Linked DNA regions of Homo sapiens: regions 2, 3, 4, 5, 6 and 7 are each linked to region 1. Evidence: fine-mapped expression QTL. A gene starts in region 1. Each other region holds a variant in brackets. All regions are shown on one strand. Distances are from middle to middle.

Region 1 (4,069 bases):
TCCCAGTGCAGCCAATCAGGAGAGAACGTTGCCGCCACACCCACCTGCTCCGCGCTGGCCCTGGGAGAGGAGCCAACCTGTCTTGCTTTTTTTTTTTTTTTAACCAGGCTAAGCTGCTGTAAATTAAGTCTTCCTGGAAATCTCAGCAACTCTATTGGACGTGCTAATGGCACAGTTCACTCCAAACTGGATTCATATTTAAATATTACATATCCTCCAACTCTTGAGTGCTTTAATTTTGTTATCTGGTTAGCCTGGGAAATCATTTTAAAAATACGCTATAAGTATCAGACTTTCCCTTAGCAATTATATAAAATCTCCTTGCAGTTTTCTGAAAGGCACAGAAGTGCAGTTTGATTTGGTTGTCTTATCAAAGGACATTTATGCATGAAAATAGGCTGCAGGAGTATTCTATATAAGATAGCAGGCAGTTCTGCACGTCTGTTTATATGCCATTCACACCATGAACACATCCAATGCAATTGTATTCATCTTCTGTCATTTTTTAAAATTAGAGTTTACTACATGATTTTTGGAGGACGGCCATATCATAGTTATTCATCCCTTGCATGGTCTGTTCTGCCACTTCTAAAGTTCTGCGAAGTTTAATTTTTGGCAGGTTTCAAGATTCTCTACATACTTTGTAGGTTAGAGTGAACGTGCACAGTATATTGTGTAATAATTGCAATACAAGACGGTGTGTTGTGTTGTGGCACGGAATGCATCAACTTAAAGATAGAATTGTTATGCAGAATAGAGACCTTTGAAATATTTGGGTATTATCAACTTTTATTTCATTTTTTGAGAAAAACTTAAAAAGTGAGCCCAGTTTTTTAAAAAGCATTTCATTGTTCTAACCTACAATTGTGCATTGTATGTTTGTGTGTGTGTGACGGAGGGTGGGATGAATAAAAGGGGACATTAAAAATATTCAGACCATAAATATAGTAGATTGGAGGTTCTGATTTGATGAGCCAGTTTCTCAGCCATAAACTGAGAGGGGGTTGGGGATACACTTCATTGTCCTTCCTGGCTAATGTAAATCCCTTATATTTAAAAAGATATTTAAAAGTATTCCAAGCATTTTGGCAGAAAAGCATAGTATCTAATGTTATTTTTTTCTTATTTTATGTGCATGCCTCTTATCCATTTAAAAATAGCTTTACTGACCTATAATTTACACACTATATAATTCTCCCATTGAAAGTGCATAATTCTGTTGCTTTTAGTATATTTACAGAGTTGTGCAGCATCAGCATAATGTAATCTAGAACATTGTCATCAACTACCCCCAAATCTCTATTCTTCCCTTCCCCTATTAATTACCCAGCCCCAGGCAAGCACTGATCTACTTTTGGTCTCTATGGATTTGTCTATTTGTGGACACTTTAAATGGAATCATACAATATGTGTCTTTTGCGACTATCTTCTTTCACTTATCATAACTCAATACGGCTTTAGATTATTTGACCTCGATGTTCTGCCTCTGAACATAAAATATTATCCTTGCATTCCTTGATGAGTTTGAGGATTGAGAATAATTTGCATGAGACAAAAATTAGAAACTAGTTAGAGCAAGTAGGCTTTTCTCCATCACATAAGCTGATCCATCTTGCCAATGTTAAAACACCAGATTGTACAAGCACAAGCTGGGACGCAATGTGTGTCCCTCTATCCCTACATTGACTTTGCGGGGGTGGGGATGGGGTGCGGGGTGAGTGAGGGAGGACTGCAAGTGACAAACAGGATTCGTCAAAAGAGAGGTGTATTAAAGTGCCGATCAAATGTAATTTAACAGCTAAACTTTCCCTCCTTGGAAAACAGGTGATTGTTGAGTATTTAACGTGAATCGATGTAAACCTGTGTTTGGTGCTTAGACAGGGGGCCCCCGGGTAGAGTGGAACCCCTTAAGCTAAGCGAACAGGAGCCTAACAAAGCAAATTTTTCCGTCTGCCCTTTCCCCCTCTTCTCGTTGGCAGGGTTGATCCTCATTACTGTTTGCTCAAACGTTTAGAAGTGAATTTAGGTCCCTCCCCCCAACTTATGATTTTATAGCCAATAGGTGATGAGGTTTATTTGCATATTTCCAGTCACATAAGCAGCCTTGGCGTGAAAACAGTGTCAGACTCGATTCCCCCTCTTCCTCCTCCTCAAGGGAAAGCTGCCCACTTCTAGCTGCCCTGCCATCCCCTTTAAAGGGCGACTTGCTCAGCGCCAAACCGCGGCTCCAGCCCTCTCCAGCCTCCGGCTCAGCCGGCTCATCAGTCGGTCCGCGCCTTGCAGCTCCTCCAGAGGGACGCGCCCCGAGATGGAGAGCAAAGCCCTGCTCGTGCTGACTCTGGCCGTGTGGCTCCAGAGTCTGACCGCCTCCCGCGGAGGGGTGGCCGCCGCCGACCGTAAGTTTTGCGCGCAAACTCCCCTCCACCTGCAGACCCGGCGGGTGGCCACTGCCACCCGAACTGAGGATGAGAAGAAGGAAGTTGGAAGGGGCGGTGGATGCGCCCAGGGACTCTCCCAGCCTGGGCTCTAGCCCCGAAACGGTCCCCGGAGTGGGATCCAGGAGGGGCCGGGAGGGAATCTCCTCCCGATCGTGAAGCGGCGGCGCCCAGTTCCCGCTTTTTCTCTCTGCCGGGTTCCCGCGCTATCCCTTCCACTCTGGCTGGGACCGCGTTCCCGGGCTCGCAGGCTCCGCCGGGGAGGTTCCGGGGTGTGGGGGCCGGGACGGCGGAGGCGGGGAGTAAGGGCCCGGCTGGCGGTGACCTGCAGTCACCTCTCTGCCGGAGGGGCCCTGGAATGAAAGGCGCGCGGGCCAAGGTGACCTCGCCTTGGTTGGCACTGCGGCTCAGCCCCCGCCCGGGGACTCGCGGGCCGACTGTGGCCCCTTCTGGGGAAGCCGGGGCGCGGGGAGGCGTTCCGGGCATCTCAGCCGCACGGGGTACGCTCGCCCTCGGCGGGGCCCCTCGCTCCGCTGTGGGAGTGGCAGTGGGTGTCGGGGTGGAGAAAGTACGCGTGGCGCGGAGTCCTGGGGACGCGGCGTCCCACCCGCTCTGGGGAGCCCCGGACTCTCTCCAGCTTCCAGGCTCGCATGCCCCTCTTTTCTTAGTGCCCTGAGAACCCAGCGAGGGGCTGACCCTCCCGAAACCGTGGCGCAGCCACCAGCAATCTGTGGTCGCCGACTCGGGGGGTTGCCAGGTCTGCGTTTGGCCACCCTTTCTGTCCTGGGGGCTGAGGTCAGCTCCGGGCGCCCGGCCCCGCCGCGCGGCTGCGAGCACGTGGGGTTGACGGGCGCCGCGTGGAGGCAGCGAGCACAACGGTGGTCACCGCCGCCAGGGAACCGCCCGCTCGCTGGGGTCCAGGCGTTCGGGGCCAAATGAGAATGTCTCAGACCTGTCCGCAATGGAGGCAGCCTGCTTAATTCGAACCTCGATTCAGTAAACATGCAACAGCAGCATAGAGAGCAGCTGAAGCCATTCATAACACGGGACAACATTTCCTTTTTTCTTCCATGCTGGAATTGCAATTAGGGCGGTGTCGCTTGGATGTGCTCTCAGGCGGCACGTCCCCAGCGGTTCAAGTTATAATAGAGTCTCTCCATAGCTTTGATGGCCGCTAAACGTTTGTTTTATTTTGGCATTAATTTGTGAAACATTTTTGTTAGGTTAAAAAACAAAAAGTTGGCAGGGAGCAGTGGCTCACCCATGTAGTCCCAGCACTTCGGGAGGCCGAGGCCGGAAGACAGCTTGAGCCCAGAAGTTCGAAATCAGCCTGGGCAACATAGGGAGACACCGTCTCTATAAAAAAAAAATACAAAAATTAGCCGGGCGTGGTGGCCTGTGCCTGTGGTCCCAGATAGTCAGCAGGCTGAGAGATCACTTGAGCCAGGGAGTTTCAGTAGACTGCAGTGAGCTGTGATTGCCCCACTGCACTTCATCCTGGGTGACAGTGAGACCCTGTCTCATAAAATTAAAACAAAACAAAACAAACACTAAGTATAGATTCCATCAAAGCAAAATTGGATAAGAAAAAAAGTATCTTTTCTATTGGATCAGTTTGAAAACACTGGAGAGTT
Region 2 (4,069 bases), 34 kb after region 1:
TCCAAAATTTACATCTCCATCTTGTACCTCGCTTCTAAATTTCAGACTTTTTAATATATCCACTTGTCTATCAAATATCTCCACTTGGCTTTCTAATAGGTTTTGGGAACCTATCATGTTATAAAACATTGTTATCCACCAGTTTTCTCCTCCCAGTTAAAAGAATTTCTTCCTTCCAGTTGCTCAGGAGGAAATCTTGGAATCCATACTTGAGTTCTTTCTTCCGCAATACATAATCAATCAGTCAAAAAAACTGGCTTGGTGTCATGGCTCATGCCTGTAATCCCAGCACTTTGGGAGGCCTGGGCAGGAGGGTCACTTGAGCCCAGGAATTTGAGACCAGCCCAGGCAACATGGCAAGACGCCATCTCTACTAAAAAAAAAAAAAAAAAAAAAAACACTTAGCTGGGCATAGTGATGCATACTTGTATTTTCAGGAGACTGAGGTTTGAGCATAGCTTGAGCCCAGGAGGTTGAGGCTGCAGCGAGCTTTTATTAGCGAAAAAGCACTCTAGCCTGGGTGACAGAGAAAGACCCTGTCTCAAAAAAAAAAAAAAAAAAAAATTCTATCAGCTTCACTTAAAAATATATCCAGAATCTGACTGCATTTTACCATTTTTAATGTTATGCCATCAGGTTTCACTGGATTATTTCAATAGTCTCTCCTGGTTTCTCTGCTACTGCTCTTGCTTCTCATTAGTCTATTAATAATGAATCAGGTGAACTTTCTAGAGTAGATCGTAGCATCCCATTCCTCTACCCAGTACTTCAACTCTCTGTATTTTTCATCCTGCCTAACAACAAAAAAACTATAAATTATTGTTTGCATATGCATGTGTGTGTTTGTACGCATACTGTTGTTATTCACCCTGTTTTACATTTAGCCCATTTCTAGCTAATTTTTGTATATGGTACTATCTGTGGTTAGAGGTGTTTTTTGTTTTTGTTGTGGTAGTTGTGGCAATAATTTCTTTTTTACATAGTCAAATTATTCCAGCAATTTGTTGAAAAAAATATCCTCTCTCCATCGAATTACATTGGCAACTCTGTTCTCTGGTCCTCACAGATCAGTTCCTCATGATGACTGATTTTTCAGGAAATGTGGGCTTTGAACAGACTTCACTCAGAAAGCCTGTGCTAGAGTTCCAGCATAGGGACCTCATTCCTTTATCAGGGCTCAGATCCTTCATCCTCTTGTAACAGGCTCTGGACCTACAATGGAAATCTGCTGACATGAGATTAAGAGAAGGTATCTGGAATGAAGGCACTTCTCCGACTCCACCCATTCCGCTGACAGGGCTCCAACAACTCCAGGGTCTTTTAATCAAGAGATTGCTAAGTCAAAGACAATGCCTCCTCAGCCAAATGTGAAACACAAAGGTTTCATAATCAAAATGAAATTCCTTCTTAGCACACAACTGGAGAAAGCTCTAAAGGAGATAAGAATCAATAATAAGATTTATAAAATTTGGCAGCATAAGCTGAGGATGATGATATTTCCCTTAATCTTTATGTTTCCAGATGGCACTGGTGTGGCAGCAGAAATCACATCATGGATGAGACGCTAAGAATTGGCACAAGATCTGCACCTTAGATCCAAAGACTATGTGATCCAGGCCCTCAAATACATCTTTTCTAATCCTCATAATAATTCTATGAGGTTGGCACCATTGCCCCATTACAAATGGGGAGAGGTTATGTGCAAAGTCCAAGCTCACATCACCACAATGGGATAGCCTGAGGATGCAATCCCAACACCATTTCCTGAGTCATGCTGTGCTAGGCCAAAATTTGGATTCCTAAAGTCCCTTAATGGTGATCAAATGGTCCAAGTTGCAAGTTAAGGAGAGTAGGTCGGTAAAGACAATAAATCA[C/T]TGTACTCCCCAGACTTCTCCAACTAATCCCAGTTATTCTTCATGCATTTAACATAAAGCTCTTCGCCGGACAACCTGGCCTCTTACTCTTTCCCTAAACAAAGTTTTTTTCTGTAGTCTCTATATTTTTGCTCAAATGTCCCTCTCTGCCTATAATGACCACCCTATTTTCTAAGTACCTTTAATGACTACTTTCACTCTTCTGAGCTCCCTTCTGAAATCTTTTTTTCTTCCATTGCTATGTTACCACTACGATCTACCTGTCAGCACAAGTGTTGCATGTACTTGCTCCGATGTTGTGTTACTAAAAATAATTACTACCAGTTTTTCTGCATCAACTATGTGCCAGGCACTGTGTGAAGTGCTTGGTTAACATTTGTTTCATTCTCACAATAGCCTCCTGAAATAGGTATTTTTATCTTCTCTTTATTGATGAATATAACGAGATGCAGGGAAATGAATTAATTTAGAAATCAAAGCTAGTAAGTGGGTGAGTTGGCTTTTAAACCAATGTGTGACTTCAAAGTTGGAGTTGTTGATTTTTCCCCCCTTTGAGTTTTAAGCCTGTTTGAACATATCTGGGGCACTTGGAGATGGTGCACCAGAAATACATTGGCAGAAAAAATTTTTCCCAAGAGAAAAGAGAAGCAAAACACATAAAAGTGACTCAAGGATGGAGGCCCAAGACAGAGAGGAGAGGCAACTTTGACTTCCACCATGTGTCTGTTTCTATTGTCTGGCAGCCCAGCCTATGGGAGTTGCCTGAGGTTTAGGGAGAAGCAACTATGATAATCTGTGAATTGCTAGATTTGGCATCCATGGTGTGGGGCATGGTGGTCCAACATTTTCCCAGCAAGCTTCTAATGTGCTGGGGTCTATGGTGGCTTTTGTGAGCTGCACTGACTTCAGTGCGGACTCCACAGGTCAGGGAACCTTGACACCCCCTGTGCTTCGGCAACTCGTTTGTGGTGGGTTGTGACAAGTGATATTAGTAACAGCCGGATGGAAAAAGGAAGGAAAATGTAAGGTCAATGCAAATTTTTATCAAGTACCTACGATGTGCGGGCAATTTTGCAAGGTGCTAGTGTCATGCAGCCTGTGGCATATTTGAGCAGACTTATGGGAGTATATAGAAAAGCTAGGAGTGGGCCGGGCGCGGTGGCTCACGCCTGTAATCCCAGCACTTTGGGAGGCCGAGACGGGCGGATCACGAGGTCAGGAGATCGAGACCATCCTGGCTAACACGGTGAAACCCCGTCTCTACTAAAAATACAAAAATTAGCCGGGCATGGTGGCGCGCGCCTGTAGTCCCAGCTACACGGGAGGCTGAGGCAGGAGAATGGCGTGAACCCGGGAGGCGGAGCTTGCAGTGAGTCGAGATCGCGCCACTGCACTCCAGCCTGGGCGACAGAGCGAAACTCCGTCTCAAAAAAAAAAAAAAAAAAAAAAAAAAAAAAAAGCTAGGAGTGACAAAGGTCTTCATACACTTGTCTTTTTGTAATTCATCTGCCCAGAGTGGGCAAATTTTGGTAATTCATGCACAGGCACTATACTGTACATGCTAACCCTGACTTTACTCACTGCTCTGTTTCTCACCCAAGTTTGTTATGAATGATTTAAAGATGCTGAAGATACCTGGATATAAAGAAGGGGGACGAAGAAGCTAGAAAAATGCTGTTGCAATATTATTTTGGCCCTACATTTCCCCCAGCATTCTGTTGCCCAGAAATTGATTTGCATCACTGTTTGTCTTGCCTTCTCAGTTCCTTTGGCAATAACGATTATATTATCCATCTACTTTTCTTTTAAAAATTCAAAGTATAAAAATAAGTGTATTTAATAATTTGTTGAACAAATGCATACATAAATGAATAAAGACTGTCATGAATAAGTACTTTTAAACTCCAACAAGCAGCATAAATGAATGAAACTTCTCATTTTTCTCTCCATGTCTCCACTTCTGTAGGTTTCTACAAGCAGAGGGTGTAATCAAAATTGACCAGTACACTCATTCTTCCTGGGAACAGAACATGTAGGATGCTCTAAAAATACCTTCTTTGATTCATTAAACTGAGTTTCTCAAGGATGTAACGAAAAGGAACACAATTTGTTCTAGAAAGAGATTTTCCTATATGTCCTAAGAAGGAGAAAACAACCAGGAGACAAAAAGGAACTGAGATATTGACCAAAATAGA
Region 3 (4,069 bases), 44 kb after region 1:
AAATATACAGTTACCATAAGACCCAGTAATTCCACTATGGGTACATAACTAGAAGAAATTAAAACATATTTCCACAAAAAATGTGTACATAGACATTTATAGCACATTTATTTATAAGGCACAAAAGGTGAAACAACCCAAATATTCATCAACCTACGAATGAATAAACAAAATGGGACATAATCATGCCACGGAACACTATTCAGCCATTAAAAGTAACCAAGTACTGATACATGCTATTACTTACCACATCCCACATAGACCTAGAAAATATTATGCTAAGGGAAGGAAACCAGCCACCAAAGACTACATATTATCATTCCATTTGTATGGAAGTCCAGAATAGAGAAACCGACAGAAACAGAAAATAGATTAGTGGTTGCTGAAGGCAGGTGATGGTAGTGGGGATGGGAAACTGTTTAAAAATGAACAAATATTTTGACAATTCACCAAAGAAAAAATGTTGTTGGGAAAGAAACATATGAAAAGATGCTCAACATAATTTGTAATATTATATAGGTTAAAATAAAAAGACCAACTTTATTGTTAGCAAAGATTTAGAGCAACTAGAACTCCCAGACATCGTTGGTGGGGATGCCAGATGGTACAGCCACTTTGTAAAACAGTTCTGCAGATTCTAGTAAAGTTAAACTTACATGTATCTAGGACCCAGATTTTCACTCTTAGGAATTTTACCCAAGAGAAATGCAAAATATCGACGCAAAACCTACAGTAAATATTTAGAGCAGCTGTATTAGCTTCCTATTACTACTGTGACAAATTACCACAACCTTCGTGGTTTAAAGCAAGACAAATGTATTATCTTACAATTCTGAGGTTACAAGTTCAAAATAACTCTTAGGCTAAATCAAAGTATGTTGGGTTTTGTCTATTCTGGAGGCTCTAGGGGAGAATTCACTTTCTTGCTGATTCTGACTTCATTCCTGGATTGTAGCCTCCTTCATTTTCAAAGCCAGCCATGTAGCATCTTCAAATCTGTCTGTCTCTCAGACACACACACACACACACACACACACACACACACACACACACACACGGCTCTGCTTCTCCTACCTCCCTGCTTCCCTTATAAGAACCTTTGTGATTATACTGGGCCAACCTGGATAAACCAAGATAATTTCTTTATCTCAAAATTTTTAATTTAATCATACCCACAACATCCCTTTTGACATTAACATATTCACAGTTTCTGGAGATTATGATTCAGATGCATTGTGTGTAGAAGACAAAGGGGTAGAGCCAGGCGTGGTGGCTCACACCTGTAATCCCAGCACTTTGGGAGGCCGAGGCAGGAGGAAGCACCTGAGGTTGGGAGTTCGAGACCAGCCTGACCAACATGATGAAATCCAGTCTCTACGAAAATACAAAAATTAGCCGGGCCTGGTGGTGGGCACCTGTAATCCTGGCTACTTGGGAAGCTGAGGCAGGAGAATTGCTTAAGCCCGGGAAGCGGAGGTTGCAGTGTGCTGAAATCGCGCCATTGCATTAAAGCCTGACCAACAGAAACAAAAACAGAAACAAAACAAAACAAAAAACTCTCAAAAACAAAAAACAACAAAAATGGGATGGAGCAGGTATTATTCTGACTACTACAGTAGCTTTACTTAAAATTGCTAAAACTGGAAAAAATGAAGATGGCCTGTTACCTGATGAATGGATAAACAAATTATGATACATTCCACACAGTGGACACAAAATCTGAGACACCTCAACACCACTCCCTTACATAATCTTCTCACACCAACATGCCTGACACATGTGAGAAGTGAATGGTAAGGCTGGTGTGCATCTTAGAGTCACTGACCTCCTGACAAAGATTCTCTCTTTGACCAAACTCTAGACAGGCTCCTCTGAGCTCTTTTTCATTCATTCCATGTCCTTGGATGTGTTCTCAAGAGTCCGACTTTAGCAAGAATTCTGCTAAGTTAGTTTAGGCAGGACCCTCGATATGTCACCTTTGATATGTGATTGAGTTCCTCATCCTCCACCATCCCTCAGGTGACATCCGATTCGCCTGGCCTGCCTTCAATAAGAATCCTATTAGTTGGATTTAGCCAGAATCTCCTCCAACTCT[G/C]ATGTTTCCTCTTAGTAATTTTCCTTCTGCTGCTAAAAATTGGCTATAAATTCCCAATTGTTCTTGTTGTTTTTGAAGTTGAGCCCAATTTCTCCTGATTACTGCAAAACTCCATTTAGTACACCTTATACCAATGGTGATGGTCCTGAATAAAGTGTGCCTTACCATTTTAACCAGTGTCAGGAATATTCTTCTTTAACACTGCTCATGTTATAGACAGAATACTATCATCTGAAGAGATCAGGTGACTTGCCCAAGTGCACATATCTGAGATCTCCTGCTTCTTGGTTTGGTACTTTCCCTACCATACTCCACATTAATCCTTACTGAGTTCCTACTCCTAAGAAAATCATAATGTGAGTGAAAATTAATAGCATAAAGCACTATACGGTGGTCTTTCTTTCCCTTAAAGCATGAGTTTGAGAGGGCTTTATGGTACAGTCATTAACAACTCAGACTTGGGGACAAACAGGTACAGTAGCAGGTCCTGGCTCTGCTACTTCCTAATTAAGTAATTCCCTGTGCCCTAGTTCTGCCTTCATAAAATAAAGCTAATAATATCTAATATTCAGGGCAGTTGTCAGAATTAAATAGGAATTTCCTGGTAAAATTCTTAGCATGCTAAGTGCTCAGTATCTGGTGGCTATTATCATTCTTGTCACTATCATTATCGCTGGTCTTTATTGAAAATCAGAGCGGAGCTAACAGACCCATGTAGGCCCTTTAGCATCCACTCTTCTGAAAAAGACAATTTGTAGAATGGCACACAAGCCTTTTGCTGAAGTTCAAAATCAGCCCAAAGGATGCTTTGTTTAAAAATATAATAATAATTGCTTTGTAAAATACATGTTTGTAGTTGACTGGATTCAACTGAATTCTACCGATTATTTCAGAAAACAATCAGTTGCATGAATTTTACATCTTAAAATAAGCTAGTCTGTCTCCAGATAGGTAAGGTGGATAGAGTCTTCAGAACAAGTAAATTTCATCCTTACTTTCCTCAGTTAGGTTATATCACATTTAATGTTTAGTGAGAAGCAAAGATGAGCGTGATCACAAAGTGTTATAAAAATACATATAAATTCAAACAATGTATATTTTGGAAGAGAGATAGGGTTTGTATACAATGCAAAATAATTGATTTTACCTAAAATTTCAACCTTTGTAAATTTTGTCACCTGTGCAGTTGGAATAGAGGTGATTACATTGCCTGCAAACCCTGCCTTTGGGGTTTGCACAGAATCGTATAATAATATCTCATATGTACAGAGCGTTTACTGTCTGCTGGTGTTGTGCTGAGCACTTTATGCAAATTAACTTTATGTGCATGAACTTGTGCACATTAATTTTTAAAATCTTCACAGCACACCTGTGAATTAGGCCCCTTATAGTCATTATTTGAACAATTAGGAAATCAAGACACAGAAAAGTTAAGTAATGAGCCCGAGGTGACGTGCGGAATCTAGACTCACTCTTGGGCCTCCTTAGCAGGGACAGGCTGTGGGTGAAGCCAGTGGGGTCATGGCTGAGGGTGCAGGTCCAGGTAAGGAAGGAGCAGGCTGGGCAATTTGACAGCAATTGAAAGACCTTAGAGAAACTTGTCAAAGTAAGATCAGGAGGGCGGGGAGACATAGCAGCCAAGGAAAATAAGGTGGGGAAATCTGTGAACCCTTCTTTAACTTAGTAAAGAGAGTGGGGGCGGTGGGGGGAAGCTTATTTGACCTTGGAGAGAAAGGCCTAGTAAAGGGAGGCAGAACACAAGTTTAGGGAATTACCATTGGAAGGATGCACCTCCTTTGCTGGAGAAAAATCAGGGATCTTAATTAGGCTGCTGCTGCTGAGGTATTAGTGGAGGAATCTCTTTAGCTCAAGGAGGGCCGTTGCCAGAGGACAAATGGGGGAGCATCCCTTGCATTTAAATATTATATAAATTGCACATGAGTCTCAATCATTCTTACAAAATTCTCCCTCCAT
Region 4 (4,069 bases), 150 kb after region 1:
TAAGATTTCTACCATGCTGGGCAAATCTGTTTATTCATTTCATTCGTCTATCAGATAACACCTATAAAATGAGCATCTACTATAGGTTAGGTACTATTCTTGGCACTGGGAATACAATTTTGAGCAATTATAGATACACTTGCCCTTATGGAAGAAAGATATGAACCACATAAATACATAAAAATAATAATTATGACAAATCTTATAAGTGAGAGGTCCTTGATGCTATGAAAAGATGGAATGGGAGAGATTTTCATTAATCTTAAAGGCTAGGGAAGGCCGAGATATGAATGACGAGAGATTTAACTAGACAAGGAGAAGCAGTATGTGCAAAGGTCCTGTGACTGTTGGGACTATTATATGGAACAAGACTAAAAGAAGTACAGTATAGCTGCAGAGGCAGGAGAATGCCATAGAAACCAAGGGGGCAGGGGAGGCAGCAGCCCCATACAGAGCCCTCCTCACCATACTGAGTTTTGTCTTTATCCTAAGAGCAGTGGGGACTTGTTAATGTGTGTTTAAAAAGAGAATATGTTAATATTTGTCTTATTAAGGAAATTATCTTGGATGCAATTTAGAAAACACTTCAAGGAGCACAAGAGTAGATATGGGTAGACCAGTTAGGAGGCTTCCGTCAAAATCTAAGTAAGAAATGATGGTATTTTGGAATAGAGTAGTCAGGTAGAGAAGTGTGGATAGGCCTGAGAGAAACATAGGGTTCCATAAAATCCACAGAATTTGGTGATGGATCAGAAATGGGGTGCAAGGGAGAGGGAGGAGTCAAGGGCAACTCCTCAGTCTAGGTATTGTTTAATAGATGCTGTTCACTGCCACAGGGGACACTGGGAGGGTCTGGGATGGGGCGGGGCAGCACACACTTCCGTTAGGACATGTTTAACTCAATGTGTTGTTGAGACACTCAACAGGAGATATTGAAGTGGTGGGTGGTGATTTGGGTCTAGAGCTCAGAGGAGGAGTTTTGGTTAAATAAGGTAACATGTGCAAAACACTTCTGTCAGCATCTGGACATGAGCGTTAGCCAATGCTATGATTTTCCAGCAATATCTTTAATGTGGTCATGATTAAAACTACATACATGATTAAATGCCTTAACTCAGTTTATATTGCTAAAGCAGTGCCTAGCCCACCGTAAGAGGTTATAAAGGTTGGGGAGGAAATTAAAGGGATTATATCTCTGAAGACACTTTTTATTTCTATGTATCAGTGTAAGAAATTATGTCTTCCAAATTTGACCCAGCTTTGGGAACTTCATAGACAGGGGGCAGTATCTCCACCTGTTATTTAGAAAACTTCACATTGTTTTCGAAATAGAAATTTAATATTTCCAGAAATTGTCCTTTATACTGTTATCAGAAAGAGCACTGAATAAAGAGACAAGAAACCCAGTTCTAATTCTTAGCCCCACCTTTGCCACTTTGGTTCCCTGGATGAATTACGTGTTTAAGTTCCATATTTGATTGATTTTTAAACATCCCAGGAAGCAACAGCTTCTTGGTACTCAGACCAAGGAACCCACACAAAAGCCACAGAGAAGCCACGCCTCAAAAAACAGACTGGCCCGGCAGGCTCCCTTCCTTTGCCCCCAGCATGGAGATAGCCATCTGGAGATGGCAGGATCATCTGATTAACAGTCATCTTGCATTTGCTTGTTATTCTCTCCGTGTTTCCTCTTAAGTCAAAGGTCAGTGATTTCCCCACTTCCTGTCCCTGCAACAGACAGAAGAAGATGAGGAATGCAGATATACCAGGGGTCAGGACACTGGCGCCTGGAGACAAATCAGTCTAGGGAGCCAGGACGTGGGTATCCTGAGGCACTTCTTTGTGCTTCCAAACCCTTGGGACCCTTGAGTCTTGGGAAACAAAT[G/C]GGGCCGCTGATGTGAATGGCTGGGAGTAGATCTAACATAATCTCACTTCCCACTGGACGGCCCAGTCCAAGAGGAAGCCAGCACTTAGGGGGATACCAAGGGACATTTACTGCCACAGAGGCTTACTGTATTCCAGGACACAGCTGTGGGTCACAGCACTTAGAGGAGAAGAAAGGTCTGTTGGGGAGGTGATGAGTTCAAATCCCAGCTCTGCTACCAACTCACTCCATGGCCTTAGATGAGCAGCTTTCTAAATTTAAGCTTCCTTGTCTTTAAAATCTTAATGACTCCCCTACCCTACCTCACAGGATTGTCATAAAGATCATGAGATTACAGGAATGAGAGCAAGCACAGGTCCCAACACACAGTAAGGAGTAAATTCTCAATACGTGTTCTAGAAGATCTCCAAAGCAGACATAAATTCTTGCTTCATAGCACTCAACAAGAAACTTCAATGTGTGAGGGGCCCATCAGAGTAAACGGAAGACATATTGTCTTCCTACTCCTCTCACAGAATTCTGCTGGGATCAATTATGCAAAAGAAATAAAAGAGATAGAGAGAGACACAGCCTTTGGACCAGTAAATCCCAAACTCTGGAGACTCCAAAAGGAGCTGAGCTCAGTGGAACATTTCCTCACGTGTTCTGCCTATGTTTTCAGCCATGCAGAGCCCTGGAAATGGGTTCTGGATCATGGGTCTTCTGGAATGTATTTGCAGGAAACTTTTTGCCATCAATCTTGAGAATATGCCAAATCACAGAATCTACCCCAGGTCCAGGAGATGCAGGAAAAGAGATCTGATGGGTAAATGCACTGGCTTTGTCAACTACATTAGTTCTTTGAAGACAAACAATTCTTACAGGGCCAGGCATGGTGGTTCACGCCTGTAATCCCAGCACTTTGGGAGGCCGAGGCAGGCGGATCACGAGGTCAGGAGTTTGAGATGAGCCTGGCCAACATAGTGAAACTGTGTCTCTACTAAAGACACAAAAAATTAGCCAGGCATGGTGGCACCCGCCTGTAGTCCCAGCTACTCGGGAGGCTGAGGCAGGAGAATCGCTTGAACCTGGGAGGCGGAGGTTGCAGTGAGCTGAGATCACGCCACTGCACTCCAGCCTGGGCAACAGGGCTCTCCTGTTTTTAGAGCCTCCATCTCAAAAAAAAAAAAAATTCTTACACTGATACACAGAAAGGAAAAGCATTTTCAGAGACATCTCTTTTACTTTCTGCTTAGCCTTTATTAATTAAGCTCTTCCTATGCCATAGGCACTGCTTTAAGTACTTTAAATGTGTGACCGTATTCAGCATGTAAATTTAACCTTGTTGGGGATGACCACATAGAGAGGATCTTTCCATAACCCACCCTCTCCCATTGTCAGAGGAAACGGGTAGGATATTCCCTCTTGTCTCACATCCTTTGTTGGTTGTTCCACAGTGAGCACCCACCACGTCCCCGCACTTCCCTTGTTGACTGCTTAGCTGTTAGAATAGCTTAGGGAAGATTGATAAAGCTCCAGTGCTTCAGTCAAGACCCCTGGCCCTTCCCCAACCCTCATAGCCTCACTGCCACAATCTCCCTGAAGACCACCAGGGTTAGTCTTTTTGTGCCCAGTGGGGGTCAGCCTGCAAATCCCCAGACGGACTGTCTTGGCCAGACCCCCATGCCCAGAGGGCCTGCACACCCTGACAGTCTGGCCCAAGGCCCTCTGCAACTTGCTGTCATTCATCAGGAAAGTACCACTTAATCTAAAACTCTTCCTGAATTTTGCCTTCACTGTCTTGATTGAACTCACGCCTTTTATCTTTGGCTGCCTATTATAGCTGCCTGTAAAGCACTTTAAAAATTAAAAAAAAATTAAAAAAAATCCATCTTCCTCCCCTCCCCAATAATTGAGTAAGGATTTGGGGGCAGGGGTGGGGGCGGGGGCTGGGTGGAGTTTAAGCATGGTTATTTTTAAAACATTTCAAACAAGAAAGGGGTTGAGTCAAAGCTCTCAGGAGATGTGCAGGATCTCCAGAAGAGCCGGAACTCTGGCTAGGCCAGCCAGGCAGCAGAGGGGACCCTCTGTCTTGGGGCAGCCCTGGAAACAGGGGAAGGGGGATGTCTCCACTGCCACCTTCAGCAAAAATTGGAGTCTACCCACCACACACTCCCTCAGGGTACTTGCTATCAGTAAGAGTCT
Region 5 (4,069 bases), 140 kb after region 1:
TGACACCTAATGCGGGAGGTTTTTTTGTTTTGTTTTGTTTTTTTTCCACACCAATCACCAACACTGTGACTCTCCAGACATCAACTAGGTGTCCAGTAATTCAACTCAATTCCGAAACTAACCACCAGGAGTTAGATCACACCCCACTAGTGAAGGGCTCAGTCCCACACACAAGCCCCCCACTTCAGATGCCAGTAGTAAATCTGGACCTCCAAACTTCTGGCCAACTGGCTACAAATAAGGGGTCCCCACGACCCCATGCTTGGATTTAATATTTTGCTCGACTGCCTCACAGAATCCAGGAAAACAGTCTACTCGTTTATTATAAAAGACACGACTCAGGAACAGCGTATGGAAGAGAGGCTGTATTTGTCCGTTTTTACGCTGCTGATAAAGACACACCCGAGATGGGAAAGAAAAGGAGATTTAATTTGACTTACAGTTCCACATGGCTGGGGAGGCCTCAGAATCATGGCAGGAGGCGAAAGGCACTTCTCACGTGGCGGAGGCAAAAGAAAATGAGAATGAAGCAAAAGCGGAAGCCCCTGATAAAACCATCAGATCTCGTGAGACTTATTCACTATCACGAGAATAGCACGCACGAGAAAGACTGACCCCATGATTCAATTACCTCCCCCTGGGCCCCTCCCACAATTCATGGGAATTCTGGGAGATACAATTTAAGTTGAGATTTTGGTGGGGAAACAGCCAAACCGTATCAGACGCCCAGGACAATGTATGGGGAAGGGGCAGAGAGCTTCCATGCCCTCTCCAGGAGCACCACCCTCTAGGCACCTCCACGTGTTCACCAGTCCAGAAGCTCTCCAAACCCCATTATTTAGGGGTTTTTATGGAGGTTTTATTACATAAACACAATTGATTAAATCATTGGCCATTGGTGATTAACTCAATCCCCAGCCTCTCTCCCCTTCCTTAGGTTTGGGGCGGGTGATGGGGCTGAATTTGATTCCTCTGGCAACCAGTCCCCAACTTGTTAGGAACGACAAAAGAAGCTCCTCCCACTCCCATCACTCAGGGAGCTCCTAGGGGTTCTTAGACGCTCTTGTACCAGGAACCAGGGGCAGAAATCAAATATATAGTTCTTAATTTCTTATAACACCCCTCCCAGAAATTCTATCTTGCGTCACTATTGGGAGGGTCAGTGTGGCCTGCTTTGTGAGCGGTTTTTTTTCTTTTATTGGTTTGGTACGCCGGGTGCGGTGGCTCACGCCTGTAATCCCAGCACTTTGGGAGGCCAAGGCAGGTGGATCACGAGGTCAGGAGTTCGAGACCAGCCTGGCCAATATGGTGAAAACCAGTCTCTACTAAAAATACAAAAATTAGCATGCGCGCCTATAGTCCCAGCTACTCGGGAGGATGAGGCGGAAGAATCACTTGAACCCGGGAGGTGGAGGTTGCAGTGAGCCGAAATCGGGCCACTGCACTCCAGCCTGGGTGACAGAGTGAGATGCCATCTCAAAAAATAAAAATTAATAAATAAGTAAATAAGAAAGCAAGAAAATTTGCTGTTGCATTGTGGGGATATCCTCTGATGGCTGTCCTTGCATGGTGCCATATTGGTACTGCATGTGCTCATATGCGTATATCCTGTATGTATTTCATATGTTAAGAGATAAAGGGTGCCTCTGTTTCTTCCAAAAACTTCCTGGCTATGGATTAACAGAACTACGTGATCAAAGGGAATCCAAGATTGAAGGGTTAGAGGAAGTGAAAGGAAATTTAATTGAGAAAGGACAGGGCATCCTTAGTGAAGAATTGGGATCCAAAGTCAGAAGTAAGCTCTCCTGGTGATGGAGGAAGCAGAAGCAGTCTGTTGCCTGAGCTCTCTGTTATGTAACTTCAAGGATTCTCACACTCACTCGCACACCCCAGAGTCAGGAGGTGGGGCGTGGGAAAGTACATGGTAGAGGTCACCCCTCTGTAACTTGCAGCAGGGGCTGGGGACACAAAGGCCCTTGAGAAAGCAGCTGATTTCCTCCCCAGCACAGGCCGGTCACCACAGGGAAGATTCCAGAAGAGGAAATTTGCTCAGCTCATAACAAAGTTTATTAGCTTAGCAGATCTGTGTGTCAAACGAGAATCCGTTTCTAAAGACTCCATTCATCAAATTGGCTCAAGCTTAGTCATTTGTGAAAAAACTGCCAAAGACCCCACAAAG[A/G]CAGCATACAGAAAAAACTTGCAGCCCAAGGTTTGGGAGGATTTGAAATATATAAACACAAGAATCAGAGATAAATACCAACTACCTAAGATTATGAGCTGATTTCCTCAAGGGTGGATAGTTAGATATAGAAGGAAACTGTAATTGCTCCATGGGTTTTTCCTGCCCACTGTCCAGACAAAACCAATTCATTGCAACCGTGACACTGCAATAAGGAAGTTTAATTGACACAAGACCAGCCATGCCATGTGGGAGATGAAGTTATTACCCAAATCAATCTCCCTGAGAATTCAGAGGCTAGGGTTTTTTAAGAATAGTTTGGTGGGCGGGGGGCTGAGGGAATGGGTACTGCTTGATTGGATGCAATCACAGCGGTGTGGAAAGTGGTCCTTGTACAGAGTCCCTTCTGGGTAGGAGCCACAGGAGCAGAGTCCTGGGTCCGGGTGGGCCATCTGGTAGTTAGAAATGCAAAAATCTGAAAGGACATCTCAAAAGGCCAATCTTGTTAGGTTCCACAATAGCGATGTTATCTACAGGAGTAATCGGAGAATTTGCAAATCTTGTGACCTCTGGAATAATGGCCGGTAATGGTTCATTACCTTGTTTATAGGTAATAGTTTATTCTGCCTACATCTTAGCAGAATTCAGCCTCCTCTCATCCTCCTAACCTGGTAGTCTTTCATTAGTTTTAGAAAGATGGTTTACTTTTGGGGAAGGGCTGTTATCATTTAAATGATAAACTAAATTTCTCCCAAAGTTAGCTAGACCCAAGCCTAGGAATGGCCAAGGACAGTCTGGAAGTTAAAGGCAAGATGGAGATTGGTTAGATCAGATCTCTTTTACTGTCATAATTTTCACATTTTTAAAATTTTTGCAAAAGTGGTTTCAAAACTGTCCCAAATCTTGTTAGGCATGAGGGACAGGAGGGAACAGGAACAACTGAGATACCTTCTAGGCAGTTAATGCCAGAAGATGTCTCAAGACTGGGTTGGGTCTAGGTCAATTATTTGCGAAAGTGTGGGTGCAAACCATGTTCTATCTAGGGACTGCCAAAACTCAAAACTGGGAAGATGAAATTCTGCTACAGAGAATTCAAATGTGAGGCTAGAAATAAGAGACAAAGTCAAGATGAGGAAAGACAGTACACCACAGCAGTGCCTGCACTTGGCTCAACACCAAGGGGCACAATTCACACTGCAGTCTGTACGAATGGTGCCCAGTAGAGCTGGGCTGTGTGTACCCTGCACCATTGCTTTGTAGCTGTGGATAGTGAGATAAATAAACCAAGAAATGAGAGAGCCCTTGAATCAAAATGATCCAAGATAATTGCTGAGGATAAGGCTTGAGCTTCCTCGTTTTTATCAGCTCTCCATTTTCAAAGCACAAATGGCCTGAAATACAATGAAGATGCAGTAGAAAAAGCAACAGTCTAGAAATTAAGAGACGGGAGGTCAAATCACCCTCTGAGAAGTTGGTCATTTATTCAGTATTCTTGGCGTCTGGTTTATCTCTAAAGTGGAGACAATGAGAAGTGGTCTGCTTCTCTTCCTCTCGGGGTTGAACCAAGTTTGATCAAGGATATAAGCAAACACTGAAAATGAATGCTTTGCAAATGTCAGGGTTACACATGACGCAGTGGTCATGGTTTTAGCAGGGTGCTGAGACCTATCAATGGCCTACAAGACCCTGCAGTATCTGTCTCCTCTTGCTAGCCTCATCCACTCCACTCACACTGGCCCCTTTGCATTCCTCCAGTACCTGTCCCCAAGGGCCTTGTGAGTGGCTCTTCTCTCTGCTTGGCACACTGTCCTGCAGAACATCAGCTTGGCTTGCTACCTTCCCTCCTTTGGGTTTTATTCAAACATCAAGTTCTCAGTGAAGATTTCCCTG
Region 6 (4,069 bases), 100 kb after region 1:
ATTTTTGAAGGGTTTTTTGCATCTCTAACTCCTTCAGTTCTGCTCTGATCTTAGTTATTTCTTGCCTTCTGCTAGCTTTTGAATTTTTTGCTCTTGCTTCTGTAGTTCTTTTAATTGTCATGTTAGGGTGTCAATTTTAGATCTTTCCTGCTTTCTCTTCTGGGCATTTAGTGCTATAAATTTCCGTCTACACACTGTTTTAAATGTGTACCAAAGATTCTGGTATGTTGTGTCTTTGTTCTCACTGCTTTCAAAGAACATCTTTATCTCTGCCTTCATTGAGTTATTTACCCAGTAGTCATTCAGGAGCAGGTTGTTCAGTTTCCATGTAGTTGTGTGGTTTTGAGTGAATTTCTTATTTCTGAGTTCTAATTTGATTGCACTGTGGCCTGAGAGACAGTTTGTTGTGATTTCTGTTCTTTTACATTTGCTGAGGAGTGCTTTTCTTCTAACTATGTGGTCAATTTTGGAATCAGTGCAATGTGGTGCTGAGAAGAATGTATATTCTGTTGATTTGAGGTGGACAGTTTTATAAATGTCTATTAGTTCTGCTTGGTCCAGAGCTGAGTTCAAGTCCTAGATATCCTGGTTAACCTTCTGTCTCGTTGATCTGTCTAATATTGACAGCGGGGTGTTAAAGTCTCCCATTATTATTGTGTGGGAGTCTAAGTCTCTTTATAGGTCTCTAAGGACTTGCTTTATGAATCTGGGTGCTCCTGTATTGGGTGCATATATATTTAGGACAGTTAGCTCTTCTTGTTGCATTGATCCCTTTACCATTATGTAATGGCCTTCTTTGTCTCTTTTGATCTTTGTTGGTTTAAAGTCTGTTTTATCAGACACTAGGATCACAACCCTGCTTTTTTTTGCTTTCCATTTGCTTGGTAGATCTTCCTCCATCCCTTTATTTTGAGCCTATGTGTGTCTCTGCACATGAGATGGGTCTCCTGAATACAGCACACTGATAGGTCTTGACTCTTTATCCAATTTGCCAGTCTGTGTCTTTTAATTGGAGCATTTAGCCCATTTACATTTAAGGTTAATATTGTTATGTGTGAATTTGATCCTGTCATTATGATGTTAGCTGGTTATTTTGCCCATTAGTTGATGCAGTTTCTTCCTAGCATTGATGGTCTTTACAATTTGGCATGTTTTTGCAGTGGCTGGTACTGGTTGTTCCTTTCCATGTTTAGTGCTTCCTTTAGGAGCTCTTGTAAGGCAGGCCTGGTGGAGATAAAAACTCTCAGCATTTGCTTGTCTGTAAAGGATTTTATTTCTCCTTTACTTATGAAGTTTAGTTTGGCTGGATATGAAACTGTGGGTTGAAAATTCTTTTCTTTAAGAATGTTGAGTATGGCCCCCCACTGTCTACTGGCTTGTAGAGTTTCTGCTGAGAGATCAGCTGTTAGTTTCATGGGCTTTCCTTTGTGGGTAACCCAACCTTTCTCTCTGGCTGCCCTTAACATTTTTTCCTTCATTTCAACCGTGGTGAATCTGACAACTATGTGTCTTGAGGTTGCTCTTCTCGAGGAGTATCTTTGTGATGTCCCTGTATTTCCCGAATTTGAATGTTGGCCTGCCTTGCTAGGTTGGGGAAGTTCTCCTGGATAATATCCTGAAGCGTGTTTTTCAGCTTGGTTTCATTCTCTCTGTCACTTTCAGGTACACCAATCAAATGTAGATTTGGTCTTTTCACATAGTCCCATATTTCTTGAAGGCTTTGTTTCTTTTTACTCTTTTTTCTCTAAACTTCTCTTCTCGCTTCATATCATTCATTTGATCTTCAATCACTGATACCCTTTCTTCCACTTGACCGAATCAGCTACTGAAGCTTGTGCATGCGTCACGTCGTTCTCATGCCATGGTTTTCAGCTCCATCAGGTCCTTTAAGGTCTTCTCTACACCATTTACTCTAGTGATCCGTCTCATCTTTTTTCAAGGTTTTTAGCTTCCTTGTAATGGGTTCGAACATCCTCCTTTAGCTCAGAGAAGTTTGTTATTACCGACCTTCTGAAGCCTACTTCTGCCAACTTGTCAAAGTCATTCTCTGTCCAGCTTTGTTCCGTTGCTGGTGAGGAGCTGCAATCCTTTGGAGGAGAAGAGGTGCTCTGGTTTTTAGAATTTTCAGCTTTTCTGCTCTGGTTTCTCACCATCTTTGTGGTTTTATCTACCTTTGGTCTTTGATCATGGTGACCTAGAGATGGGGTTTTGGTGTGGATGTACTTTTTGTTGATGATGGTGTTCCTTTCTGTTTGTTAGTTTTCCTTCAAACAGTCAGGTCCCTCAGCTGCAGGT[G/C]TGTTGGAGTTTGCTGGAGGTCCACTCCAGACACTGTTTTCCTGCATACCACCAGCAGAGGCTGCAGAGCAGCAAATATTGCAGAACAGCAAATATTGCTGCCTGATCCTTCCTCTGGAAGCTTCAACTAAGAGGGGCACCCAGGTGTATGAGATGTCAGTTGGCCCCTAATGGGAGGTGTCTCCCAGTTAGGCTACATGGGGGTCAGGGATCTACTTGAGGAGACAGTCTGTCCGTCCTCAGAGCTCAAACACCATGCTGGGAGAACCACTGCTCTCTTCAGAGCTGTCAGTCAGGGATGTTTAAGTCTGCAGAAGTTTCTGCTGCCTTTAGTTCAGCTATGCCCTGCCCCCAGAGTTGAAGTCTACAGATGCAGGCAGGCCTCAGTGAGCTGCGGTGGACTCCACCCAGTTCGAGTTTCCCAGCCGCTTTGTTTACCTACTCAAGCCTCAGCAATGGCGGAGCCCCTCCCCCAGCCAGGCTGCCGCCTAGCAGTTCAATCTCAGACTGCTGCGCTAGCAGTGAGCAAGGCTCCATGGGTGTGGGACCCACTAAACCAGGCATAGGATATAATCTCCTGCTGTGCCATTTGCTAAGACCATTGGAAAAGCGCAGTGTTTTGGTGGCAGTGTCGCGATTTTCCCAGTACGGTCTGTCACAGCTTCCCTTGGCTAGGACAGGGAAATCCCTGGACTCCTTAGGCTTCCCAGGTGAGGCATGCCCCACCCTGCTTCAGCTCGCCCTCTGTGGGCTGCACCCACTGTCCAACCAGTCCCAATGAGAAGAACCACATAGCTCAGTTAGAAATGCAGAAATCACCCGTCTTCTGTGTTGATCACGCTGGGAGCTGCAGACTGGAGCTGTTCCTATTTGGCCATCTTGGAACAGAACTGTTGGGGACATTTCTAAAATTGGCAATATACTGATCGCCTTAGGACCAAATCATCAAGATCTACTTCTGTAAGAGACGTAGTCAAAGAACAACATGCAGCCATGGAAAACTGAGTGGGCTGGAGGAGTGATTGTATATACAAAATGGATCTGGGCTGTGTTTAAAGCAAACTAGTCAGTTCCCCAAGACCATTATGGGACATAGGAGAGCCATAGTACTCCCATTTGTAGAAATCCAAACCCACCCCACATCATAAAAATATCATAAAGGTATGCTTAATCCACAGTATATATACTTTTTTTTTTTTTTTTTTTTTGGAGACAGAGTCTTACTCTGTCGCCCAGACTGGAGAGCAGTGGTGCAATCTCAGCACGCTACAACCTCTGCCTCCTAGGTTCAAGCAATCGTCCTGCCTCAGCCTCCTGAGTACCCTGGACTACAAGCATGAGCCACCGCATCTGGCTAATTTTTGTATTTTTAGTACAGACGGGGTTTTGCCATGTTGGCCAGGCTAGTCCCGACCTCAAGTGATCCACCTGCCTCAGCCTCTCAAAGTGCTGAGATTACAGGTATGATTCACCACACCTAGCCCACATTATATATACTTTTTAATTGAAAATTTAAAATGTATTTACATTTTTACTTTTACTTTTGTAAATTACATTGTAATTTACACTCGACTCTGATATTTTGGTACTCATTAGGCCTCCTCAGGAATTTTTGTAAAGTGAAAAAAGGCTAGCCTGAAGTTGTGCTTGAATGTAATAAGCTTTTTATAAGTATTAAATTCAGCATTTAGTAACACTAACATATATTTGTGGACATTTAGTCAAATATTTTTCAAGCTCGATTTTGCAGCTTTCTTGGAATATACTGAAGCCA
Region 7 (4,069 bases), 38 kb before region 1:
CTTCCCTAGATGTGGCCAAGGGAAGGCCTGGCTGCCTCAATGCAGATTCTCTACAGATGCACTTGGTAATCACTGGCTTGATTTGGGTAATGTGCCCAGCCCTGAAAAACTAACCCTCCCCAATAAAAACAGCTTTGTAGGGTTACATGTGTTTGCTGACTCTCCGAACAGCCATTGCAAAATATGTCAAAAATATTTTGGGGAAAAATATTTTTATTTTCTTCAAAGACAAGGACAATGACTATCTTGCACAAAGATACATTCCTAGCACTTAGCGGTTTCTGGATCCTCCCAGTGACCTCTTATTTAAAGTCAAGGGACAACACTGAGGGCCAGCGAGACATCCAACAGAATATGTGTGGCTGACACTCAAGACCATGCATGATTAATGGGAGAAGCAGCATTGCCAAGGGGGCAATAATTGTTTTTTAGGGAGTAAAAAGAATCTCTCATATTATAATGGTTTGTGGCCCTCTGAAAGGCCAACATCACTAAACAGAAACACAGTATGCATCACGTGCCAGGGGCTCTCAGCTGTAATCCCAGCACTTTGGGAGACTGAGGCAGGAGGATCACTTGAGGCCAGGAGCTTGAGACCAGCCTGGGCAACAATAGGGAGACCTCATCTCTACAAAAAAAAATTAAAAAACTAGCCAGGTGCGTTGGCCCATGCCTGTGGTCCCAGCTACTTGAAAGGCTGAGGTGGGAGGATAGCTTGAGCCTGGGAGGTCAAGGCTGCAGTGAGCCATGATTGTGCCACTGCACTCCAGCCTGGGCAACAAAGCGAGACTCTGTCTGAAAAAAAAAAAAATTTAAAAAAAGAAATACAGTCTGTTTGTGGTATTAAAATTTCATGGGTGGGGCACTGTTAGAAAAGAAAGATCGGCCGGGCACAGTGGCTCACACCTATAATCTCAGCACTTTGGGAAGCCGAAGCAGGCGGATCATGAGGTCAAGAGATCGAGACCATCCTAGCCAACATGGCAAAACCCCATTTCTACTAAAAATACAAAAATTAGCTAGGCGTGGTGGCGCGTGCCTGTAGTCCCAGCTACTCAGGAGGCTGAGGCAGGAGAACCGCTTGAACCCAGGAGGCAGAGGTTGTAGTGAGCCGAGATTGTGCCACTGCACTCCAGCCTGGCAAAAGAGCAAGACTCTGTCTCAAAAAAAAAAAATAAAATAAAATAAAAGAAAAAAGGTCTATTAAGATCCTCAAAAGGATAGTAAGTATTAAAAAGATTGAGAAATTGTGCTGTCAGCCACATTCCTAAACTTTCAGGTGACTTTGAATATACCATGTAATAATTGGGGGTTCAGCATATTTATCTGTTTGTGGGGAAGGGTGGAGGAAATGGAGATGGCAGGAGGAGAGTAACTTTCCAGTTAACCCATTACTAGCCAGGAACAAAGAAGAGAGTCAAGGCAGGGACCACATATTATATTCACCTTCGTGTGACTCACACATTATCAATAAATGCATAATGAATGAAAAATAAAAAAGGAAGTGATTCATGAAGAAACACAAATTCATTTCTTCAGCAGGGTTTGCCGGAATTGACACTGCTTCAGACATCCAAAATTATTACAGGAAAGTTAGGATGAAGTACCAGCTAATCATTTCCCCTAGGAATCCCATAGTTTTGTATTAACCCTGCTATCATTTCAAAATAATATAAAATCAATCAGAGTAATTTGATAATTTATCTACCTATTATTACATATCGCATTCTTCTGTTTATCAGTAAATTCACAATACTCAAGTATAGTAATGATCAAGAATATAAAGCAGTTGCTTACAATTTTAGTTATGTAAATACTATTTCCTCCATGTAGGAGTTAAATGTTCTTTCCCTTCTCTCTCTTTAGTTTTGAGATTGAAACTGAAGCACTGTGTAATTCCTGAGACTGAGTTTCTTGGAAATTTGGGGCAAATCACAATCAAGTGCAATGGGCAAATTCTTGTTAGGAGTCCAGCTTATGCTGATCAGAAGCCAAGATATACTATAAGAATTAAAATGTGAAATGGCACATATGTCATTTAAAACCCAATTAAATATTCAGCAATGAGGTATGTGTGTAGTTTGTAGAATTATAAATCAGAACTGCTGTTCTCAGAAAGGGTGTAATCTTATTCGGGCCACATGATTAACAGAGAAAGAAAACAGTATACAACATTATGTAAGTAACCCTGATAATGATGTAGAACAGTTTGTATGCTGGAAGAGTTCTGAAAAGATCTCTGAGGGCTGGAAGTGCTAAGGACAATTTCATAAAGAAGGTAAGAGATTATCTACATAGATCTGAATAGTCTAAAAGAAATTGTGAATTCATGTTGGATATTTTGAAGGGAATAAGAGGAAACTGCCACAGTAGG[G/C]GTATAGTCAGTGCCTTGAGGGTCTCTGGGGCCCATAAACAGTGAGAATAGCTACCATTTATTGAGTACCGAGCCCTGGGACATAAAGTCCTCCAGGACACCAAACAATGAGACAATTCAAAATACTGGTTTCTGGTCTTGAGAAAATAAATGACTCTATTCACTGGGTAAAAAATTGTCTCTAGTTCCTTGTTTTCTAAAGAAAAAAATGTAGGAGGCCCTAATCCAGCTGTAAGCAAACAATTCTTGAAAATCATTTTTAATGTTAGAAGAGTTTATGACTTTTTAGCATGTAACTAGGAAGAAATTCTAAGAACAGAATGGCATTAGTATTAACAAATTTTCTTCCATTGTTATCTATTTATTTACATACAATAGTATTCCATATGCTTACACGTATGAAAGTAGAATAAGAATAAAATTGATGCTGAACACTGAATCATTCTAGCAATAACTAACGTTTAACAAACACATCAGTAAATTAAACTTTAAAAAGCCTATCCAGCCAGGCGCAGGGGCTCATACCTGTAATCCCAGCACTTTGCATGGCTGAAGGGGGCGGATAACTTGAGGTCAGGAGTTCAAGACCAGCTGGGCCAACACGGTGAAACCCCATCTCTACTAAAAATACAAAAATTAGCTGGGCATGGTGACTCCCAGCTACTCGAGAGGCTGAGGCAGGAGAATCACTTAAACCCAGGAGGCAGGGGTTGCAGTGAGCTGAGATCGTGCTACTGCACCCCAGCCTGGGCTACAGAGCGAGACTAGGTCAAAAGAAAGCCCATCCATCTCATTAAAAGTGATTTTCTCATAAAATTTTTTTTTTATATTTACCACTTATTAACATTTGTGTTATATGTGATTTATTATGTAATTATCATAGTACCTCAACCCAAAATATAATTTTAACCCTTGGAATCTTATTATAAATTAAGATAACCTTAATTTCAAAATATATAGTTTGTTATAGTATAATATGAAAAATGATTAATAATATTTACATATAAATACCAAAAGTCCCTTGCTGACTTCTGAACTACACATATCTGGGCCAAGGCAATGAAGAACCTAGAGAAGAGATGACAGCTTGGTAGGCACAACAGTATAACGCAGAATAGACCCACAGATGACCCAGATGTTGGAATTAGCAGACAAACATTTTAAAATAACTATGAAAATATGTTTAAAAATGTACAAAGATGGATATATGTGGCAAGAGTAAGGAGTATCAGGGTAACCACAATAAAAAACTAAGTGAAAATTTTAGAGCAAAAAAAATTTTATACAAAAAAAATTGATTGGATGGTATTAATAGAAGATTTTACATAAAGGAGAAAGAATAAGTGAGCTTGAAATTGGATCAACTTAAATCATCCTAAGTAAAGCACTGGAAGAAAAAGGACTTAAAACAGTCAAAATAACCTTCAAGGTGGTATTAAGGCATGTGTAAATAGAGCCCTAGAACAAAATAGACCAAGAACGAGTCAGAAAAAGTATTTAAATTTTAACAAAAATTTTTCTTTTCTTTTTTTTTTTTTTTTTGAGGCAGAGTCTTGCTCTGTCACCCAGGCTAGAGTGCAGTGGTGCGACCTCGGCTCACTGCAAACTCCGCCTCCCAGGTTCAAGCAATTCTCCTGCCTCAGCCTCCCAAGTAGCTGGGATTACAGGTGCCCGCCACCACGCCCAGCTAATTTT

Which allele goes with the higher level. Alleles are on the strand shown, and positions count from the first base shown. SD is a standard deviation of normalised expression in the study named. Not every link is listed here.
With allele C in place of G in region 3, the expression in spleen of the gene that starts at base 2,121 in region 1 is higher (moderate effect, 0.74 SD a copy in GTEx).

What was found. PIP is the estimated chance that this variant, and not a neighbour inherited with it, causes the effect.
Region 2: its variant is the best candidate, but not a certain one, in a credible set for the expression of LPL in lung (TOPMed, PIP 0.65).
Region 3: its variant is the best candidate, but not a certain one, in a credible set for the expression of LPL in spleen (GTEx, PIP 0.57).
Region 4: its variant is the best candidate, but not a certain one, in a credible set for the expression of LPL in whole blood (TOPMed, PIP 0.64).
Region 5: its variant is the best candidate, but not a certain one, in a credible set for the expression of LPL in blood mononuclear cells (TOPMed, PIP 0.52).
Region 6: its variant is the best candidate, but not a certain one, in a credible set for the expression of LPL in whole blood (INTERVAL, PIP 0.85).
Region 7: its variant is the best candidate, but not a certain one, in a credible set for the expression of LPL in tibial nerve (GTEx, PIP 0.88).

What each region holds. Positions count from the first base shown.
Region 1 is chr8:19,937,133-19,941,201 of GRCh38, forward strand. LPL (lipoprotein lipase) reads left to right here and starts at 2,121. Exons shown (of 10, transcript NM_000237.3): 1 at 2,121-2,396. The coding sequence starts at 2,309.
Region 2 is chr8:19,971,536-19,975,604 of GRCh38, forward strand. No RefSeq gene overlaps it. Among named protein-coding and RNA genes, the nearest start is that of LPL, 34 kb to the left of the region's middle. The variant C/T (reference allele first, on the strand shown) is at 1,875.
Region 3 is chr8:19,980,802-19,984,870 of GRCh38, forward strand. No RefSeq gene overlaps it. Among named protein-coding and RNA genes, the nearest start is that of LPL, 44 kb to the left of the region's middle. The variant G/C (reference allele first, on the strand shown) is at 2,096.
Region 4 is chr8:20,085,221-20,089,289 of GRCh38, forward strand. The region is part of intron 1 of LOC105379311 (a long non-coding RNA gene); the gene reads left to right. Among named protein-coding and RNA genes, the nearest start is that of SLC18A1, 96 kb to the right of the region's middle. The variant G/C (reference allele first, on the strand shown) is at 1,886.
Region 5 is chr8:20,072,226-20,076,294 of GRCh38, forward strand. No RefSeq gene overlaps it. Among named protein-coding and RNA genes, the nearest start is that of SLC18A1, 110 kb to the right of the region's middle. The variant A/G (reference allele first, on the strand shown) is at 2,180.
Region 6 is chr8:20,038,272-20,042,340 of GRCh38, forward strand. No RefSeq gene overlaps it. Among named protein-coding and RNA genes, the nearest start is that of LPL, 100 kb to the left of the region's middle. The variant G/C (reference allele first, on the strand shown) is at 2,296.
Region 7 is chr8:19,899,514-19,903,582 of GRCh38, forward strand. It overlaps LOC107986921 (a long non-coding RNA gene), which reads left to right and starts at 2,219. Exons shown (of 3, transcript XR_001745822.1): 1 at 2,219-2,278. The variant G/C (reference allele first, on the strand shown) is at 2,375.